2 separate regions of the Homo sapiens genome follow, and region 1 is linked to region 2. Evidence: fine-mapped expression QTL. A gene starts in region 2. The other region holds a variant in brackets. All regions are shown on one strand. Distances are between the middles of the regions. Region 1 overlaps PARD3 (par-3 family cell polarity regulator). Region 2 holds the start of PARD3 (par-3 family cell polarity regulator).

Region 1 (8,135 bases), 58 kb after region 2:
CACTTCTGCTATTATATTAGAAGTAGAATGGGGCTGGGCACAGTGCACATGCCTGTAATCCCAGCGCTTTGGGAGGCTGAGGCGGGCAGATCACTTGAGGTCAGGAGTTCTAGAAAGCCTGGCCAACAAGGTGAAACGATCTTCTCTATTAAAGATACAAAAATTAGCCGGGCATGGTGGCAGGTGCCTGTAATCCCAGGTACTTGGGAAGCTGAGGCACAAGAATCACTTGAACCCAGGAGGTGGAGGTTACAGTGAGCAGAGATCCTACCACTGCACTCCAGCCTGGGTGGCACAGTGAGACCCTGTCTCAAAACAAACAAAAAAAGTAGTAGATTGGGACCAGGCATAATGGCTCATGTCTGTAATCGCAGCACTTTTGGAGGCCAAGGTGGGAGGATCACTTGAGTCCAGGAGCTGGAGACCGGCCTGGGCAACATAATAAATACTGTTTCTACACCGCTGCGCTGTCCCCCACACCCCGCCTGCCAAAAAAAGGTAGATTGGGGAGGGGTTTACACAGAGACATAAAAACCAGAAGATAGGGAGATCATTTTAGAGGCTGCCTCCCACATTGAGATTACTTACATAATATAGTTGGCTAAGATTGGAATTATACTAAACTTGTTGAAACCTATATACCTAGTGGCATTGTGAAAGATTTTGACAGGTAAAGTCATGTGCAAATACGAATAAAGGAATTCCACTCCCCAAAACGAAGTATTTTTAGATTCATAAGTGTTCTCAGCTAATAAAGTAGACAAAAATCAGAAAGCGCAGCAGTATGTGCAGAGCTTTTCACATGATATTAAAAATTAAGCCATAAGGCAGTTTGTCTCTTATTCCACATGTGGAATAAAGTGACTTGTGAAATGCCATGGTGGGTGCCTTTATTCAAGAATCCTCTTCAGTAGTATTTTTACCGCAGCACACACGTTATGCTGGCTGAAATCCTTGTGCGTAGCATGTTGCCTGCTGAAAATAATTCTGCCTTGGCCTTAGGCGATGTGCTGTTGAATTGGCTGCCTCAAATTGTCCCTCTCACTTCCTGTTTTATATGAATACTTTTTCTTTGCTCTCTTTTACTTGCTTAAAATCGGAATGTTTGATTGCTATGTGCATCATCCTTCAGTGAAATGTTTGAGGTGGAAAGTTCTAGAAGTTTCTTTTTCCCTTTTGTTGATGCGTGGAATAGATACCAGTCACTTTTAGAAATACTTGGGTGGTTCTAGCTAAAATGTGATATTCTACTTTAGCAAGGCCACTTGTGAAACAGTTCTCAAGAGCACAGTGTATCTAGTAAGTGCTTACTCATTGATTAAATATTATGTACATTGTTTTTCTTCTAATGTGATAGGACCATTTAGGACCTAAGTTTAAAGATTTACACGTGTGAATAAAATCCGTTGCATACCCTGTTCTGAGCCAGTTTTCTATGCCGTAGTATATTTCTTTGGTTCCTATTAGAAAAAAAAAAGTGCTTCATATCCAATTCTCATTGAGTTGTATCTATTCTCAGTATTGAGTTTTTTTTTCTTTTTTTCTTTTTAAAAAAGTTTCAGTATTGAATTTTGATTACTGGAAGCCATTTAATTTTGTCTTCATTTATTTTAGTTTTCATTTATCTTCAGTGCCTATGATTCTGTAGCTTTTTCCTTCCGCCTCTTTCTATTCTTTTTGTGCAGCAAAAATCATCCTCCATGTCATAGTCTTTGTTTGCATAACCTGTTCTGTCTGACACAACCATCTATCATGACCTAATTTAGCCGTTTCAGTCACACCTAGTATAATTTATACCATGGGGGAATTTCCTGTGCTGTTAAACCTTCCTTGTCATCCGTCACCAACTTAAGGAGCTTCCAGGTGTGCCCTTTCACAGGGTGGGCTTGGACTTTTCTAGTTCTTGCATTTTAGGTAGGAGCTGTTCTCAGGAATTTTTTTCTTCTGTGAATGAGTAAAGTGAAATTAATCCAAACTCAGTGCTTCCAGGATTAAAACACATTTCCATATTACACTGTCTGTAAGTTGAAGGGCCTTAGTGCTTGAGTGCCCCAACTAGAAAATGACTCATCATGAGGTGTCCTTCTGTAGACAGTGTGACGTGATAAGAGGAAGAAGGAAATTGTGGGCAACACAGTGACTTCCCAGTGACAATTCACTTGCCTCTCCTAATATCCTTCATTCCAAAGCTGCTCTTCTGCAGATGGTTATGAGGCATAGTGTGGTGGAGTGGAAAGACTTTGGAATAATGCTCTGCCACTTTCTAGCTGTGTTATTTGGAAAAATTGCTTACCTCTCCCTGAACCTGGGTTTCCTTATCTGTAAAATGGGGAGCATACTACCTTTCTTGAAGGGATTTGTTAAAAAGAATGTGTAAAATAACATATAGCAGTGGCATGTGGAAATTGTTGGATACTCCAAAAAAGTTGATGTGATTTTAAAACTTTTTCTTTACTCAGCTAATGTTTATCCTAGCTTTTCTCATGTTAGTACTAAGCCCTGATTGCATGAGGTTTTCTTAAAGTGGCCCATGTAGATAATTATAGCATTTTCTAGCATTTCATAGTTTAGGCCAATATTGGATTACAGAATGAATACTTTGAGTGCTTGCAAAGGGGTCAGGAACAGATGCATTTTTAGGAGTATCAAAGTCTGCCAATAAGGAAGCTGGTTTAGGAAATTAAATTATATGCCCAAACATTTTATGTCTACAGATGCAGGTTTATCTAGAAGAGAGGAGAATTTTCTAATAGTATACTGAAGCATCATCAGCAGAACCCTTCCAGTGCAAGGACAAAATGGGGCATCGTTTACTCTGAATTTTATGACCAGCGGCAGAAAAATGTGTCACTGATGAGGTTAACTGGGGACCAGAATCCTGGGCATGGTCCTAGTTGGCATGAGTAGAATTTGCAATGGTTTTCAGGATGTATTTTCTTCTTTTTTCTTTTCTTTTCTTTTTTTTTTTCTTGGAGACAGGTTTCGCCCAGTGGCACGATCTTGGCTCATTGCAACCTCTGCCTCCCTTGTTCAAGCGATTCTCCCACCTCAGCCTCCCGAGTAGCTGGGTTTATAGGCGTGAGCCACCGTGCCTGGCTAATTTTTTTGTATTTTTAGTAGAGATGTGGTTTTGCCATGTTGGTTGGCCAGGTTGCTCTCGAACTCCTGGCCTCAAGTGATCTGCCTGCCTTGGCCTCCCAAAATGTTGGGATTACAGGCATGAGCCACCGCACCCGGCCAGGACATGTTTTCTTAAAGACAATTTAAGAGTCAGGAAGTGGAAAAGGAAAGACAGGTAGATGAAGGACAGGCTGTAGCATGTCACACCTCACAGTTATTTGCAACTTTCTGTTAACCAGATACTGTGTTAGATGAGAATAAGAACTTAAATTTTTTATTTTTAGTGCTGACTAGTAATTAACTATAATTTTCAGTCATGATCACTGTGTTTGAACCTCCTGTGCAGATATTGTGGAAATATGTATTTTAGATGTGAGGAAGTTCTAATATAAATGAAGGCTCTAAGTAAAGAAAAAGATGCAAAATGCTGTCATAGACTTCGAAAACAGATTTGGATAAAAAACATTGCACCTACCAGAGGAATCAAGGAGAAATTTTTCCTCACAGATATTCAAGACATTATGTTATTTATCTTGTTTATGACTTTAGAACCTTTTTTTAGGGGGATGACAGTACCTTTTGGTGATTTGAGTCTAAAATTTGAAACTAAGATTCATGCAGAAAAGTAAAAGAAGAAAATTTTCGGAGAAGAAAGCAGTGGTTGAAAAATCTGTTAGCAGTGTTCCCTTTTGTCTTTTCAGCCTGTTCACCAGGAACTCGGAGCTTTGCACTGTGATTATTTTATTGGTTCAAAGGACAGAGATTGTCTTTAAAATGATGAATGGCTTTGATTATGTGTAGTGGCTCACACCTGTAATCCCAGACTTAAGGAGGCTGAGGCGGGAGGATTGCTTGATGCTAGCAGTTTGAGGCCAGTTTGGGCAATGTAGTGAGACCCCATCTCTATAAAAAGTAAAAAAACTAGTCAAGTGTGGTGGTGCATGCCTGTAGTCCCAGCTACTTGAGGCTGAGGCAGGAAGATCACTTGAGCTCAGGCGTTCAGGACTACCACTACGCCACAGCCTAGGCAACAGAGCTGACTCTTTTTTTTTTTTTTTTTTTTTATAAGAAAAAAAAAAAA[G/AG]GTGCATTGGCTGGGCGCGGTGGCTCAAGCCTGTAATCCCAGCACTTTGGGAGGCCGAGGCGGGCAGATCATGAGGTCAGGAGATCAAGACCATCCTGGCTAACACGCTGAAACCCCGTCTCTACTAAAAACACAAAAAATTAGCCAGGTGTGGTGGCGGGTGCCTGTAGTCCCAGCTACTCAGGAGGCTGAGGCAGGAGAATGGCGTGAACCCAGGAGGTGGAGCTTGCAGTGAGCTGAGATCGTGCCACTGCACTCCAGTCTGGGCAGCAGAGTAAGACTCCGTCTCAAAAAAAAAAAAAAAAAAAAAGGTGCATTTTTTTGCCATGGGGAGATTGGAGGAGGGAGGGTGAGGGGTACTGCCAACCTGTACAGTGATTTCAACCCAGATTAGCATCCTAGCCCCTCTCTCTGCTGGTTTGGTTTAACAACTTATTGTAAGTTTGGTGCTCCTGTGTGAGACTAGAGTAAAGGACCATGGGCATCTTCATGGTTGTTGGGAAGCTGTTAGTCCCCAGAACTAGAGCAAGTGGGGCCAGTAGGTACAATTCTCAGATATGGTGGCCTTTGAAGCAGGTAAGCACAGCCTGTCTTGGGCCTTAACATTAATGCCTGTCTTGTTGATTTGTCATTATCATTTTAGTTTTGTAATTGGTTGATTGAGACAGAAGGGGAAAAATGGCAAAAAAAAGCATGTTATATATGCTTAGGATGGAATGTTTTCTTTTTCCCATTCCTCATCTCAATTCCCAGTTTAATGCCAAATCTTTGAGTATCCATATTCTTGAGGAGAGACTGTTCTTGGAAATCATTTGATGAGAAAACTGCTGAGAAGCTGATCAGATGCCAACATCAGAGGGCAGTTTAGGTTATCTGCTAACTACAAGCAGATCCAGATCCTAGTAGCACTGAGCATAGACAGACACCAAGTTATGACCTCTCAAGTTGCTAGTTGAGCCTCATGAAAGGAAGATTTGCTGTGGGAGGGCATACCCTTGCACTGGGCTCTTGTGATCGGCCCAGCAATTCTTTTTCTGTTATTTTTTTTGAGACAGAGTTTCTCTCCTGTCACCCAGGCTGGAGTGTAGCAGTGCAATCTCAGCTCACTGCAACCTCTGCTTCCCTGGCTCAAGCGATTTTCCTGCCTCAGCCTCCTCAGTAGCTGGGATTACGGGTGCATGCCACCACGCCCGGCTAATTTTTTTTTTTTTTTTAATTTTTAGTAGAGACGGGGTTTCACCATGTTGGCCAGACTGGTCTCGAGCTCCTGACCTCAAGTGATCTGCCCGCCTCAGCCTCCCAAAATGCTGGGATCACAGGCATGAGCCACCGCGCCCAGCCTCGGCCCAGCAATTCTTCTTGAAGCTGTCAGTCATCCTTTGCCTCATTGAAAATGTCGATTTTTGGCTCACTCTGCCTGTTTTAAGGACCTTGGAAAAGTGACAATCTCACATTGACCAAAACTTTCCATTTGCTCATAAGCTTTAAGGACTTCTTACACGTAGTCTTGTGTCCTTGTGGTCAAGGATGTAGGTCCCTGCTTATAAGCCCCACCTCATGTTCTCATCACTGTTGACATCATGGCTTTAGCTGAAGTGTCTCTTTCTGTTATTAGTTACTCATAAATGTCGTTTATTAACAGGAGGAAGGTTATTCTTAGAATTATTTCTGATGAGGTATTTGTATGTGTATAGTTTAAGTCAGGGGATTGTCTGTAATCCAACGCAGTCTGAAATAGTTTTTGGAGGTTGGCATAGTTTCATTTCACCCTGTCCAATTTGTTCAGAGAAGCCTGGAATTTTTACATGTTAGTAAAAGAAAGAAAATCTGCCTGATTTAAAAATTAGTGGCTTTTAACAATTGTATCTATGATATGAAAAGGAGAGATTTGTTGCAACAAAAGACTTTCTATTAATAAAGTATTTGAGTATTTTCTGTGTAGCCATGTGGGTGTGTACACGATAGGTAAATGTAAAATATGATCCTTGCTTTTAAAGAACTTGCTTATTTGGGAAAGTACAGGACAAAGCACGTGATGTTTCATAAGACGGGTTGTAGAAAGAGCTACTTATGACTTGAAAGTGTTTTTATTGGTAAGGTAAATAGATGCTTGTATGTTTCTCAATAAATTAATCTAGCAGTATAAAAAATTCCAGGCCAGGCATGGTGGTTCATGCCTGTAATCCCAGCACTTTGGGAGGCTGAGGCAAGAGGATTGCTTGAGGCCAGGAGTTCAAATCCAGCCTGGATAACATAGCAAGATCCCATCTCTACGAAAAGTAAAATTAGCCACATATGGTGGCATGTGTTTATAGTCCCAGCTATTCAGGAGGCTGAGATGAGAGGATCACCTGACCCAGGAGGCTGCAGTGAGCTATGACTGCATCAGTGCACCTCCAGCCTGGGCAACAAGGAGACGATGTCTCTAAAAAAAAAAAAATAAATAAAACCAGAATTCCATATGTTGTCTGATCTACGATGACTATTTTTGTTTTTTCTACGTTATCATAAAAAACACTTATTCAGGGGAAGCCACTTTAAAAGTATCCTAGATGAGAACTGTGTGCTCCTTTTTGTTTTAAGGTTGTGTGTTCTCCCTTGTCCTTTCCCTGACTCCCTGCATACTTTGAGATGGCTTGTGCAGCCCCGGCTTTTGCTTGGCATACTCTTCCTGTCTGTGATTCTCTGCTTCTCTCCATGGCTGGATTTGCTGGTCTAGAGATACAAGAAGATTTGAAACCTATGTCCTCTTGGATTTTATTAATCAAACATATGCATGTCCAGAATTCACACAACCCTCTGCCATGCCCTCCAGGGATGGGCTACTGGGAGGATATTTTTATCAATAAGTAGGCTAAATATTTATTTTTATCCCACTGGGTGGTTTCACAGGCATCAGCAAAATACAAAATTGCGTTATTCACCAGAACATGAGCTACTTTCTGTGTTGTCCATGTGGCAAGGTCTTTAGAAATATTTGTGTGGGCCTTTGCCATGTTAAATGGCTGTATTCCAAGGCTTCATTTGTGGTGGTCTAGTCTTTTGTAGGAGGATAGTAAGGACGAAATGAATTGGTGTCTTCCAGCAGTCAGATGTGGCACACAGGGCTCAGGGCTTGCACCAGTCGTCTGCCTGTTCTTCAAGGTTTGCCTGGAGCTTATTTGCCAGCTTCTCCAAGGGTGTCCCCAGCTCTTAGTTTGCTTTTCCATTTGTCAGTCCAAGTGCCCTTGGGGATAGAGTGTCATCCCCTTTGGCTCCTCATGTGGGCATGTATGAAGAAGAGAGACTTCGTTTGTACACACAGCAATCAGGACCCCTGCTGGAGCTGGAGAATCGAGGTGCTTTTCAGACCAATCCTGAGGCCCTGTCCTTGGAACTGAAACAACAGGCTGAGATGACTGAAGTGCATTAAGGAGGAGGCTTTAGCCTGCTGCCTTGGCTGTTTTCTTCCATTAGAAAACATCTCATGAATGGAGCATTTGGAAAAACAGGTAGTTTTAGAAAAAGAGAATTTCCACTCAGACTTTGAGACCAATCTCTGTAATTGTTTTGGTAGGGTAAGGATAGGCTTTCTTGAAACACTAGCCTTTAGCTGAGGTATTCGCACACAGCCCCTGTCTCTGCATAAGGAGATAATAACCCCAAATCAAAGGACTGTCTTCTGTTAATTACTAAATTCCCATTTTTCCACTTTAAGTTGTGTGGCTGGTAATAGCGTCCGCCTTCTGATATAAGTCATAGCATGCAACATGCACTTTGCAAGTGCATTTTGCTTGAATATTTTGCAAAGATATTCTATTGAATTGAGAGGCAGCAAGTATTTGATGTAATGATTACACTTGATCACACAAAAACACTTCACAGTGCCATGGCTGGTCTTCATAGTAGTCAGCTCTTGACTTTGCTTCTGTTTTTTTTTTTTTCTCCCCACAAG
Region 2 (8,135 bases):
TACATTCCCATGTGGCAGCGTGGCAGCATGTACTGTTTTTTTTTTTTTCTTTTGAGACAGAGTTTCATTCTTGTTGCCCTCGGCTCACCGCAACCTCGGCCTCCTGGGTTCAAGCGATTCTCCTGCTTCAGCCTCCCGAGTAGCTGGGATTACAGGCATGTGCCACCATGCCCGGCTAATTTTGTATTTTTAGTAGAGACGGGGTTTCTCCATGTTGGTCAGGCTGGTCTCGAACTCCCGAGCTCAGGTATCTGCCCACTTCGGCCTCCCAAAATGCTGGGATTACAGGCGTGAGCCACCATACCCAGCCGTACTGTTTTCTGATACATTATTTTATTTAACATTCATAACTTATGACCAGGTGCCGTGGCTCACACCTGTAATCCCAGCACTATGGGAGGCTGAAGCGGGAGAATCGCTTGAGGACAGGAGTTCAAGACCAGCCTGGGCCACATAGTGAGACCTTATCTCTACAAACAATTTAAAAATTAGCTGGGCATAGTGGTATTTGTCTGTAGTCTTAGCTGCTCTAGAGGCTGAGGAAGGATTGCTTGAGCCTGGGAGTCTGAGGCAGCAGTGAGCTAAGATTGTGCCATTGCCCTTTAGCCTGAACAACAGAGCAAGACTCTATCTCAAAAAAAAAGAAAGACTGACTCATAACCTATGAGATCTATGAGATGGATATGGATATGATAAGCTCTACTTCTCTACTTTTCAGCTGATAAAACGGGCTGGAGAAAGAGTGACTGTTGTGTCTAAGGCACTAGTAAGTGGCCAAATATGGATCTGAACCTAGATCAGTGTGATGTCCTATGTACTCTGGTTATTACTGAAAAATGACTTTCGATTAGAATTATTTTGAGAAAGCCCCACTCTAATTTATTATACTCAAGCTAGTATACCCCTCTGAACTAGTGTAGCATCAAAACTAGTATACATTCTCTGCCGCGCGGTGGCTCACGCTGCAATCCCAGCACTTTGGGAGGCTGAGGCGGGCGGATTGACCAGCCTGGCCAGCATGGTGAGACCCTGTCTCTAACTGAAAATACAATAATTAGCTGGGCGTGGTGGCGGGCACCTATAATCCCAGCTACTCGGGAGGCGGAGGCAGGAGAATCATTTGAATCCAGAAGGCGGAGGTTGCACTGAGCCGAAATCACGCCACTGCGCTCCAGCCTGCGCAACAGAGCGAGACTTGGTCTCAAAATAAATAAATAAATAAATAAATAAAAATAAATACATAAATAAATGTAAAAAACACAAAATAAAATAAAGTAGTATACATTCTAAACTAGTAGTATACTCTCCCAATGCATGAAAACAGAAACAACACCTATAATTATCAGTAATTGTTGTTGTGGATCCAAGTATCTATGTAAGAAGCAAAAAACCCACATCAACAGTTGTTGTCATCGTTGTCACAAACTTAATTACTGGCTAGAAATGTCTAGTGCTGCAGCCAAACAGCAGTAGGAGGAGCCTTTCCCATGGCTGAGTGGAAGGAGGGAAACCTAGACTATTTCTGGGTCTGCCTTGAGCTTTCTCTGCCGCCTTGGGCAAGTGACTTTGGCCCTGGGTCAATGTCCTGGAGTAAGATGGGGCTAACACCACTGCACTGATTTGCTGGGACAGGTGGTGGAAAGTGGTGGTCCAGGGCTGGGAGAGGAGAGGAAGGGCAATGTTTCCTAGGAGAAACTGCACTATGCTGGGGCAGCTGCGGTGCTGCAAAGCGCAGGGAGTGTGGCAAGCGGACGAACCTCGTGTCTTGTTTCCTTGTTTTAAGATTGGAGGTGGAGTGGGATGGATGGTCGATCGCCAGCTCTTCCAGCTCTTAAGTGCTCAAGTTCTGCGCCAACCCAGGGGAGCTTGATTGCTTTCACGTGTCTTGGAAACAACTGGCAAAAAAGAATTTCACATAGTCTGGAAAGGGCTTGGGACAGGGACCACTCTTTGCAGACATTTGTCATTCTTTAAACATAATGACATACATTTATTAAGGACTCATAGTCCATAACTAAGACAAAATGAGCTTCAGTTACGTTCCCTAACTCGGTCCACGTTCCTTTAGAACGTCTCAAGCCCGCATGTCACTCATCGCGGAGTCGCAGCCTTCCCCTGGGTTCGGGCGTCTGCGTTAAGCGCCGGCACATCGTGGGGATCCCCGCGTGAGATTTCTCTGCGCCGTCGGAATAGACTGTTCACGGATTCGCGTTAGGATTCCTTATGCTGCAGAACTTCAAAGAAATAAATGTATCAGAATTGCGATGTTTAAGTTCTAATCTATTTAAGCGGGTGGGTCAGCAGAGGGTCAACAGGAAACTTCAAGGTAAATAGTGGCCTCTGGAAAAGGCCCGGTCGCTCACGGCTTCCCCACTGTCTCCCCAGAGCAGACTATTAATTCTTGCGTTTCAGGCAGAACTGCCGCTGCCGGCCCTGCAGCAGAGCTAGGGAGCGGGCAGGGCAGAAACCCAGCCGAGCAAGCTGCAGGCTCGAGTCCCCGCGGGCGGAGAGGCTCGGGCTGGAGCCTCCGGGGCGGTGAGGAGGGGACTCACCGCACTGAGCACAAACTGCTTTCCCCGGGAGCGCCTGCACCCAAAACCCTCCAGTTCGAGGAATGGGATTAAAAGTGACAAAGAAAGGGGAAGGGGGGCTCCGTGGAGACTTCTGGAGGCGTGGAAGGGGCGTCCCCGAGGAGGGGCGACGCAGCCCTGCAGGGTGCTGGGCGGGCGGGGTGAAGGGGGCTGGGGGGCGCCTGGGCCAGGGCTGGTGGGGGCAGACGGCCGCCTGCCCGTGCTGGCACTGGGGCGAGGGGTCCCGCGCCCCCGGAGGGAGGGAGGGAGGGAGGGAAGGAGGGAAGGAGGTCGGCCCCCGAGGGCGGTGGCGGGGGCGCGAGCTGCGGTCCTGCGCTCCGCCCCGCGCGGGTAGCCGGCCGCGCCTCCCCCTGCCGCATGTGCGCGGTGTTGTGTGCCCTGCCCTGCTCCTCCCCCTCCCCTCCCCTCCCCTCCCCTCCCCTCCCGCCGTCCCCTCCCCCAGCGGCCCCGAGCGAGCGCCAGCGCCACACAGCCCCGGGCAGCCGCCGGCGAGCGCGCCGCGACGCCGAACAGGTGGCCGGAGGCTGCGGGCGCCGCGGCGGGGAGAGGCGAGGCAAGCCCCGGGCGAAGCGAGGCGAGGCGAGGGCGGCCGGGCCGGGCATGCGAGCTGAGCGGCCCCCCGGCGTCGCCGCCGCCTGCCCGCGCCCCTAGCCGCCCGCGCGCCCGAGTCCCCAGCGGCTCCTCCGCGCCCAGCGTCCTCGGTCCCGGCCTCGGCTGCTCCGGCTGCGCTCGGCGAGGGGCGCGGGCCCGCCCGCGGCGGCGGCGGCATGAAAGTGACCGTGTGCTTCGGACGGACCCGGGTGGTCGTGCCGTGCGGGGACGGCCACATGAAAGTTTTCAGCCTCATCCAGCAGGCGGTGACCCGCTACCGGAAGGCCATCGCCAAGGTGAGGGGCCGGGGGCGCGGGCGGGGAGGGGGCGGCGGCGGGGACGGCGCCGGGATCAATATGGCGCTTCCTGGAAGGGGGAGGAGAGGCGCAGGGAGGCGGGGAAAGGGAAAGTGCGGCCGGTCGGGCCTCGCGGGCGCCCCCCGCCCCGGACTGCGGGCGCCAAAGTTCTCTGCGCGGGCCGGGGCGCAGCCTCTGGGACACCCAGCCGGGTCCCGCGGCCCCCGCCCTCACCCTCCGCCCGGGAGCTCCGGCCTCGGTAGCGCGGGGCGAGCCGGGCAGCGGCGCATAGGCCGGCCCTGGGCGCCTCCCCGGAGTCTGCAGACCCAGCCAAGCCCCGAGCCAGCGCGCGGGGGGCGCAGGCCGGGAAATCCAGCCCCAGGCCTTTCCCGGCTCCCAGGCCCCGGGGGCACAGGCCGGGGACTGGGAACTTTTGGTGTGAGGAGAGTTTCGTGACTGCCCTTCCGACAGAGGCGGGTTGCGAGCCTTCTGCCTCCTCTCCCTTACTCGGGCGGGGGCGGAACAGCGGCGGGGGGCTTTTCCTCCATGTCCCCTGCTGGTAGGGGCCGGCAGGGGCGGCCCGTCGCGTCCGGGGGCTGCAGGGTTTGGGGAGTCGCCGGCTTGGGGTCGGGGAGGCGTTCCCGGGAGGGCCACCGCTGGCACTTGGCACTCGCTTGCGAGCATTTACTGAGCTGATCCCACTTGCTGGGCTCTGGAAAGCACAACCTTGGAAGAGTCGCGGAATGAAAAGTTTTCCTGCGAGGACCTCAGCTCCTACCTATCCCGGGCTGGTTCCATGTGGCTGGGCTGCGGGGCCGGGCCTGACTTGGGAGTTGAGTGGATTTCCCTTTTTCCTGGTGGACTGATAACATTGTCTCCACTTCACAGCATTCCTCTACTGTGTGTCAGAAGTGAAAAGGCGTTTTGTTAAATTGTTTTACCGACTGTGTCTGTGTTTGACAACAGCCCACGCTGAAGTTTCTCCCAAGCACCCGGGGATATATTTCCTTTGTAGTAGAGTCCTCTTTGGTGGGGAGCGCATTCGTTTGGGTGCAGTATTTCCCATTTGTTCCCGACAGTGGCCTGGCCCCTGTGGGCTTGGGGGCTGCAAATGACGTTGGAAAGTGGCTTGGTCAGCCCTATTGAGCGTACACAGGGTACTCCGGTGGCATCTTCAGTTCTCTCAGAAATTAAGAAGTAAAAGCTTTTTAGACTTTTGTTTTGCTTTTAGTATATATTGGAAAAAATAGCATAAATTTGGCCTTTTAAAGATAATTTTGGGGGACGTTTGGAGACCCGACACAAGGATGGAAGACGTTGGCTTTAGTAGCTCTGTTATGTTCCTTACAGTTGAACTCTTTTATTGAAAATCAAATAAAATTAGTGGGAATTGGGCACCTGTTTATCTTGCAAAGCTGACAAAGGGAAAGAAAACCATCTAAATGGACATTTAGCATTTTTAAGTGTTGTTTATGTGTGACAGTTTATGCTTTAAATGTTCCAAAAGAGTACTCAAATTGTTCAGGCACTCTGGAAACCAACAAAACAAATTGTGCAAGGAAAGAGAAATAAAGTAATATGCACTCTGCAGTACGTCTAGGCTCCTGAATAGGAAGAGGGTGGTCAACATTTTCTTTCACTTTACTAATTTTATGTGATTAAAATTGTTTTACCTACTGTGTCCCATGTTTCATCCTGCACAAAATAGACATAGGCTGAACTGCCTGTTTGGCAGTAGTTCAAATGTAGTTGTTCCAGGCATTCGTTCCACAGAAATTCTGAAGCTTTGACTGTGTCCATGGCACTGTTCTGGGTGCTGGACATCTAAGGGACCCACTGGCTGTGAGAAGCTGAGCAAGAGGCTGCGGGGTCCTCCAGGTGAAGGAGCTGGTGATGACATGGGGAGAAGAGGTGGCCTCTGGGATGCTGGGTGGCTAGAGTGCAGGGCCTTGGTCACGGACCTGGTCCTTATTAACGATTAGCAGTGGTTGTTTCACAGGGCGTAGAAAAGGGAGTGCAGTTTTTTAAGGGTGTCTGGGAAGGTGTCACAAAGAGAAAAGGGGCCTATGAGCTGAAGGAAGGGAGGGTGATAGTGACATGGGAGTTGGAGATGAGAGGGAGGGTCAGAGATGGGTCAGGGGTTCCAACACTTACATGCTCTTTAAGTACAACTTAGAGTTCTGTAGGTGAATTTTAACGGGGGCTTTGCAGTATACCAAGTTCAGTCATTGGATCCCAAGATTGTTGACCCTTAAATGTTGCCAGAGCTGGAGTGTCTTCTAGGTCTCCTTTTTCTCGTTTTTCTTCTGAAATTGCTAGACAATGATTAAGATTAATTTTTAGTCTTTCTTACTACTTTTCCCATTCTATATTAAGTGATGAGGAAGTGTTAATATGTATTTAACACTGTTTTAACTTTTATTCTCTATCTGTTCCTTATCCGTATTGCCTAATAGAACAAGAGAAATTCTGTGTGAAGAATTGGGTGGCTGGATAGTTGTGGAGTGGTGTTTAGGTTGCTAGGTGACATGTGGCTTGATGAGCTCCCATCTGGTGGGGAAAAGTGTGGGCAGATCATGTTTATGGCTTTGGATAATAACCAACCAAGCCAAAAATAAAAAATAAAAAGGAAAAGAGAAAGGTCCCAACTCTCAAATCACCAAGGCTTTCTCTGCAGTAAACATTTTCTGGTGTGGTGGGGCTAATTTTCTGGCATTGCATGTGAGCTGTTTTCTCTTCAGATTACACAAATCAATTTTTCTGGATAGTGAAGTGTCATGATTTAATACTAGACATGTCCTCAGTGAGTAGATATTTGAAGGCTTATGCTTAGTCATGTGTGACATTTCTTTTTTCCTCTCCTGAAAGATGGTTTTGTGGTTGTGATCACTGATGGTTGGGAATAGCTGTTCATCCTCATCCACCCATCTGCATTAGGAGCCTCGCTGAGGACAGTGCGGTGCTAGACATTGGGAACCGCGTTACATGGACCGTTCTCATGAGGGCGCAGGATGGGAGGATGGACCGTGTCTGCATCTGTTCTTCTGCGCTTGCGACCTGACACGCGTGATTCCAGGTGGACATGGTGCTGAGCTGCAGCGCTGTGTGGGGTTGGTTGAAGGGCTGCTGTGTATAAAAAGTCATGCTCTATGAAAAAAATATAAGACTGAATTCGTGCAATTTTCAAAAAAAAGTATAATCTAGGAGACAGGAAGAATATATAACAGTATAAATAACAGGAGGTGGTAGCATTAATTGGCACCACTGTGATACAGTCAGTAATCGCTTCTGGATTTTGGAGGTGGGTGCTATCATTATGGGGTGTGTGTGGGAGTCTCATTTAGTCACTAGGATTTGAACTGGGCTTGGTTGGTGGGAAGGCTGACCTTGATATAGGGCAGTGCTTGCTAACTGGGTGAGGCACCTGCCTGCAGGGGCAGATGGGCTCTGGGTCTGAGGTCTGCAGTTGGGGTCTAGGTGTGTGAATCTGCAGAATGTCTGCTACGATTCTGATAAGTGAAAGGGAGGGCATTCCAGGAAGGCAGTATGGACAAAGGCGATTCAGGCATTCAGCCCAGGGGGTCAGGATCAAACTGAGGAGGACAGAATGCCAGGGCAAGACCCTGAGACTTCGTGCAGTAGGAAGGACTGTGGTGTTTAGCTAAGAGTCAGGGTAACAAGTAGTTCTAGGAGGATGACCTGAGCAACCTTAGATGAGGTTTGGATGGATAATTCCTTAGCATTTCATTCTAAATAAAGGTTGCTGAGTGACCAAAAGGGGAAGGAGAGAGTGAAGGGCAAAAGTGAGGGCAAGGAGGTGCTGGAGCCCCTTTGCTCACTGTTCCCACCTCCCTCATAGCTCTCCTCTCAGCCTGTAGGGGAGCTTTGGATTGGGTTTGGTGACTTAGGTTTACAAGCCATTTAACCTTGGGTATAGGGGAGCTTTGTATTGGGTTTGGTGACTTAGGTTTACAGGCCATTTAACCTTGGGTACACCAACCCTACGGAGCCCCATTATCTCAAGTGGAATATTCCCTGGCAGGGTTAATGTAAGTATTAAACAGGATGATGAGAGGGAAACTCTAAAGTCCTGGGCCCGGCCCATACTAGCTGCTCCGTAAAGATGAATGGAATCACCAATATGTTTTATCCACCAAGCAGTTTTACACCCAGGGAACTTTCCCAGGTGTCCCACTATTGCTGCTTGGATTTTTCCTGTTTACTTAAAAACGCAGCATGTAATTTCATTGAAGGATAGGTAAGAATGTGAGATTGAATGACGTGCAGCACCACAATCAGGAGAACAAAATTGTGTGTTGCATGTGTGTATGGGCTGGGGAAGTAAAAGCTGCGGGTATTGGCTTGATTACAGGTTGATTATTGGGGCCTCTGGCTTCTGTCCCCAAGCACATCACTTTAGAGTGATTTAATAGCAACCTGTTGTTATTACAGGTTGAGCATCCTTTATCCAAAATACTTGGGACCACACAAGTATTTTGGATTTTTCTGGACTTTGGGATATTTTTGTATATATAATGAGATAGGTTGAAGATGGAACCCAAGTCTAATGTATTGTTAGAATTTATGTTTCCTACGTACCTTATACACATAGCCTGAAGGTAATTTTATGCAGTATTTTTGTGCTTGAAAATAAGTC

The links. PIP is the estimated chance that this variant, and not a neighbour inherited with it, causes the effect.
Region 1: its variant is the best candidate, but not a certain one, in a credible set for the expression of PARD3 in whole blood (INTERVAL, PIP 0.58).

Annotation. Positions count from the first base shown.
Region 1 is chr10:34,752,527-34,760,661 of GRCh38, reverse strand. All of the region lies in intron 1 of PARD3 (par-3 family cell polarity regulator), which reads left to right. Among named protein-coding and RNA genes, the nearest start is that of PARD3, 59 kb to the left of the region's middle. The variant G/AG (reference allele first, on the strand shown) is at 4,202.
Region 2 is chr10:34,810,219-34,818,353 of GRCh38, reverse strand. PARD3 (par-3 family cell polarity regulator) reads left to right here and starts at 3,058. Exons shown (of 25, transcript NM_001184785.2): 1 at 3,058-3,478. The coding sequence starts at 3,359. PARD3-DT (PARD3 divergent transcript) reads right to left here and starts at 2,586. Exons shown (of 2, transcript NR_108043.1): 1 at 2,553-2,586; 2 at 1,932-2,234. RefSeq lists silencers at 2,710-2,759, 2,850-3,019, 3,540-3,819.